Regions from separate parts of the Homo sapiens genome. Here region 2 is linked to region 1. Evidence: fine-mapped expression QTL. Tissue or cell type: nasal epithelium. Region 1 holds a variant in brackets; the other region holds the start of a gene. All regions are shown on one strand. Distances are from middle to middle.

Evidence for each region. PIP is the estimated chance that this variant, and not a neighbour inherited with it, causes the effect.
Region 2: NTRK3 starts here. The variant in region 1 is fine-mapped to the expression of NTRK3 in nasal epithelium (TOPMed, PIP 0.98).

The regions. Positions count from the first base shown.
Region 1 is chr15:87,972,901-87,975,582 of GRCh38, reverse strand. All of the region lies in intron 14 of NTRK3 (neurotrophic receptor tyrosine kinase 3), which reads left to right. Among named protein-coding and RNA genes, the nearest start is that of MIR11181, 28 kb to the right of the region's middle. The variant C/A (reference allele first, on the strand shown) is at 1,663.
Region 2 is chr15:88,255,434-88,258,115 of GRCh38, reverse strand. NTRK3 (neurotrophic receptor tyrosine kinase 3) reads left to right here and starts at 1,377. Exons shown (of 20, transcript NM_001012338.3): 1 at 1,377-1,472; 2 at 1,630-1,832; 3 at 1,948-2,210. The coding sequence starts at 1,963. All of the region lies in intron 1 of NTRK3-AS1 (NTRK3 antisense RNA 1), which reads right to left. RefSeq lists an enhancer at 2,159-2,682.

The DNA.
Region 1 (2,682 bases):
CAGCCCAGAAAGATGCCAGTTTGGACTGGCCTCAGCTTAGGGTGGCTCAGGGAACCAGCCAGTCCTGCAGCTCCCTGACCTCCTGCATTCGAATGTCACCAACAGGATTTCACAGTAGCTTTGTCAGACCTTAAGCTTACATTTTGATCCTGCGGGATTTTGCTGCACAGATTGACAGCTGACTCAGTTCACGAACCCAGGGTGCTTGCCAGGCGCTCCCTGGATCTTCATTCTAGAGACTTGGTTGACAGGTGCTGGTTCTGAAGCTCAGAGAATGAGAAACTCAACTGTACCAATAAGATCTTGTAGAAACAAGGTGAAATTCGATCTAACACATTCCAGGGACATGCCCTGGAGAGGCTGGACTTTTTTACTAGCATTACATGATGAGGTCCTGGAACTGGTTGCCAACCTCCCAAGAATGGGTTTACTGTGGGGCATTAATAGTAATAATTCTATGTAACTTATGAAGCACTTACTCAGAACCAGTCAGATTTTACCCACAAGGAAGCTGAAGCTCAGAAAGATTGAATAACTAGCTCAGGTTTCCACAGCTTGAAACTGGCAGAACCAGGACTGACAGGGGGACTGCCTGACACCTCAAAATGCTTTTGGCCACTCTGCAGCCCCCTAAAGTAGCACATCTTCTGCTCCTGGAAGGCTATGATTGTGAAACACCACCTAGGTGCTCCCCCCTCCAACCCCACTCCACTCCTAAGACAGAGAAGTCTTTCAGGGGTCTTCAGGGATGAGCACCATCCCTGACTTCCTTCTGGAACTTTTGGGACAGGGTGATTTTAAAGACTGGAAAAGAACATCTGCAACGTTCTTTCCTCTCATTGTAGCATTTAGTGACTTGGGGGTGTATGAAAGCATGGTTGGGCTTAGATCTGAGATTAATCACATGTCTTACAGTTGGTGAGATTCCCAAGCAATGATGGCCTTTTTGATATTGGGGAGGACTCATCATACAGTTGGATGAGACCAACCTGATCCTTAGGATAGCAGTTAGGCTGCCCAGGTCTGGGCAAGGGTGAGAAGCTTCAGATAGGAAGGTGGTAGAAGAAAGGATGAGACCAACCTGATCCTTAGGATATCAGGTTAGGCTGCCCAGGTCTGGGCAAGGGTGAGCAGCTTCAGACAGGAAGGTAGTAGAAGAAAGGGCCTTGTCTGACTACCCACTGTCACTTAACCTTTCTTCAACGCACCTCAAAGACCTCCTGATATGTCCAAGCTCAGCCATGCAATGCTCACCCTAAAAAGACCAAACACAAATCAGGCTCAATTTGGAAGTCAAGAATCTGACCTCTAGCCACCTCTGTCTCTTCTTTTGTGCGGGAATCCCTTTCTGCAGCCAAGCTCCCAGCAGCCACATCCTCACCTCCACCTCCCCAGCCACAGGTGTGACCGCAGCACAGCACTGGGCTGTGACACATCCCCTGGCTCGTCCCAGTTCCCTCAGGTCAAGACCAGGCATGAGCAAAGGATCAAGCATCTCAGATACAATGGTGAGGCAGCAAGGGAGGGTTGGATGCCGCGGGAAAGCTCAGGAGCGGGCAGATCAATGCAGGACGACTTCATTGTTGTGTAGCTTTCTGCACGGAGCCAGACATGGATTAGGCAAAGAGCCGGAGCCTTTGTTCCTTCAGGGTTTACTGACTC[C/A]TGTGCTCTGGCTAGACTCGCACATTGCTGCCAGCATGACTCTGAAAGCAAGAGCAAAATGAAGGTGGCAGGGAGGGAGAGACAGGGAGGGGGAGAGGGGCGATGCTGGCTGCTTGGAGTCTTCTCTGTGAAGGGCCCAGGGAAAACTCTTAAGCATGACAGCAGAGACGGGAGGAAGGTGGAGAACAATGGGGAGTCTGGCTTCCATCTAGACTGTCCAGCACGGGCCTGGAGCTCTCCTCCTCCTCTCTCCCAGCTCTCCCCCACCCACCACATTGCCAATCTTTAATGCTGGCTGATGTGGGCGAAACTGCTTGCAGCCTCCAGATTCCTTGGATAGCTCTGGTTCTGCATTTTGCCTTTAGAAATCCTACTGTTACCACCCCCTATACTTCCCACCTCCCAAGAAAACCTCAGCCTAGATCTGACAGTATATTTCCAGAGCTAAATAAGACTCCTTCTTCAACCCTACTTGAACCCAAAAGTGAGTTGAAGGAGATATGCTGGCAAGAGATAAGTCCCTTGTCTGCTTTTTTGGGTGGTTCTGAAATTCCATCAGGATTCTGAGGCCCTCTTGGGTAGGACTTTTGTTCCAGTTTCTCCTACTCAGTGGATAAAACTTGCATAGAGTGACCCCAGTTTCCCTTGAAATTAAATCTTGATAAGGGAAGAGATTTCTGCACGGGTGATAAGGTCTAACACCCCTCTGTGTTTTTGCCCCTTTTCATTTTGGCACATTTTCCTTCTATCACAAAATATCTGGGTGTTTGTGCCTGAGAGAGCTAGATCTTCTCTCCTCATTATGCTTGACTTCTGGGTGGGTGTGAATGCATTGCTCAAAGGTTCTGTATGCTCCTGGGCCAGGATGGCGAGGAATGACAAAAACGAGGGGGACAAGGAAGATATCAGAGGCAAACCTTTGACTGGGGCATGCTCTGCTTTGAGAGAAGGGAACAAGAAAGACAGGAGCACTTCTGAGGAGCACAGATCCCACAGGGACGTAGAAGGTACTGATGGCTC
Region 2 (2,682 bases), 280 kb before region 1:
CTTCCTCGCCTGCCCTCCTCCAAGCTCGGGAAGGAGAACCCTGCTTTCTTCTGCGTGTGAATGCTGTAGTGTGTCTGCCTGCTCGGACTCCCCTAACCCTTTCTTCTCCTTTCCCACAGCGAATGCTCGTTTTTTTTTTTTTCAGCAAACAGCTCACACTTGGCATCTTTATGTTTTATTAAGAAAAAAATCCCTACCAGCGCAAAAGCGGGGCCCCCCCCACACACACTTCTTTCCCGGATGAGATCTGAGCTCTCGTCGAAAGCTGCACCTGCTTTGCGTCCCTACCAGGAAGGGGTGCTTGTGTGGGAGGGAAGGAGGAGGTTCTGCGCCCCCGAATCCGGAGAAAGCAGCCCGCCCGCCCCCTCACCCGGCAGCCAGCTCAGCTCACCCGAGAGCTGAGCCCGAGAAGCCGGCCTCTGACGGTGCTGGCGTGGCGCTTGCCAAAATATGCCCCTTGCATCTCAATTTCCCCCGGCCATTTCTCTTGCACGCACAGCTCGCCCGGGGCCACCTCGGCTCTCCAGCGCAGCCCTTTCGACCCCTGTTTCTTCCTTCCCCGATCCATGCCTGCTCAAGGCCGAATGCAAAACCCACCTCCAAGAAAGCGCAGCGGGCACGGGGGGCACCTAGCGTGCCATGTCCCGCAGTCCCCTCCCAGCCAAGACCAGAGCCCCAGACTCTAGATTACGGAAATGAGTGTCATTCAGACCAAGGACTGCGCGTCTGCGGTCCCGGTCCCCGGCTCTGGGTGCTTCTCTGGGGTGTCTGTGCGCTCCGGCACCCCCCGTCGCCGTCCGTGAGCCTGCGCCCCCCACCCACCCAGGCTTGGGAGCGCCCCCCACCCAAGGCTTGGGAGCACTCCCCAATCACCTCCGCCACGTTCATTTCACTTCCTACCGCGGTCCGGATTGCAGCAAAACCGGGTAGCGCGAGGGCCAAAAAGTGGAAAGGAGAGCGCCTTTCCGTGTCGTGCAGCCAGCTCGCCAACTCTCCCTCCCCAGCCCCGACCCTCGCAATCTCAAATGCAACTTTTTCCCTTCGGTCTCGGTTTCCCCCGGGCTGCGGCTAGCGGGCGCCGCGCTGCGAGGCGTGGAGCGGGCGGGCTGCCGCGAGGCTGCGGGTGGCGGTGCCGGCTACAGCCGCGAGCCGGCGAGTGGGTGGGTGGGTGGGTGGGGAGGAGGGAGAGGACAGGCGGGGAGAGAGACGGGTGTGGGGAGGGGAGGGAGGGGGAGATTCCGCTCTCCTGCCGCTCCCAGCCCGGGCGGGGGGCGGGGGGAGGAGGCCGCGACGAGGGAGGGGAGGAGGGAGGGAGGAAGGGAGGGAGGGAGCCGAGGAAGACGCTCCGATAACCCGTGCGTTTCGTAAGGCTCGGAGCACTTGTACATTTCTGCAGCCGCGCGGCGAGCCATTCGCGGCGGCTGCTGCAGCTCCTACTGCATCTTCCTTCTCTTCCTTTCCTCGGGCTCCGGGTGTGTGTATGTGTGAGAGTGAGTGTGTGTGTTTTGCAGGTGCGTGGTGTGTCCGTTTTAATTCTGCCCAGTAGGTGGGACTTGGTGACTTTAGCACCATTTTTTCCTTTTCCTTTTTTTTTTTTGCCTCCCCACCGTCTGTTGCAACCCTGCAAAGTCTCGGAGTCGGAGAGCGCGCCTCGCTTCCAGAGCCCCCGGACCCGGCGAGTCAGCGATCGCCGAGCCGGCCACCATGCCCGGCAGACCGCGCCACTAGGCGCTCCTCGCGGCTCCCACCCGGCGGCGGCGGCGGCGGCGGCGGCGTCCGCGATGGTTTCAGACGCTGAAGGATTTTGCATCTGATCGCTCGGCGTTTCAAAGGCAGAGGCCCCCCCTCCCCCTTCCCCCCTCCCTCGCCGTCTTTGTTTCCTTCCCCCCCTGCTCTCCCCACTCCCCCCACCCCACCCCCCTCTCCTCTCCTCCTCCTCTTTTTTAGAAGCAGCGATCGGAGATGGATGTCTCTCTTTGCCCAGCCAAGTGTAGTTTCTGGCGGATTTTCTTGCTGGGAAGCGTCTGGCTGGACTATGTGGGCTCCGTGCTGGCTTGCCCTGCAAATTGTGTCTGCAGCAAGACTGAGATCAATTGCCGGCGGCCGGACGATGGGAACCTCTTCCCCCTCCTGGAAGGGCAGGATTCAGGGAACAGCAATGGGAACGCCAGTATCAACATCACGGACATCTCAAGGAATATCACTTCCATGTAAGTCAGGCGGCCGCTCCCCAGCCTGCCTCCCCCGCGCTCTGCGTCTCCCTCCTGCCCACCCGCGGCCGGGAGCCGGCCCTCCGCCCGCCCCAGCTCGCCGCTGCCCGCCGCCCGCTGGGCGCGCGTCAGGCTCGCTCTGGCTCGGGAGATGCTCTCCGGCTGCGCATTCCAGGTGACTCCGGCCCTGGCGAGGCGCGATCCGGCTATGCGTGTGTGTGCCTCTCCCCGGAGAGGACCCCGGCCGCCGAGGGCACGCGGGGCCCAGCTACCGCCCGCCTCCCAACCAGTTGCTGGCTCGTTTCGATGGTGCAAATTGTTTTTTTTTGCTCCCCACTAAATAGCAACAGTTTGGCCACGCTCAAGTGGAATAAAGTAGACGAGGTTCGATTCTTTGGCAGAGGCGGCAGCGGCGGTGGCAGCGGCGGCAGCGCTTAGCCGGCAGGGAAGGTGACAGATAGGGACTGCTCGC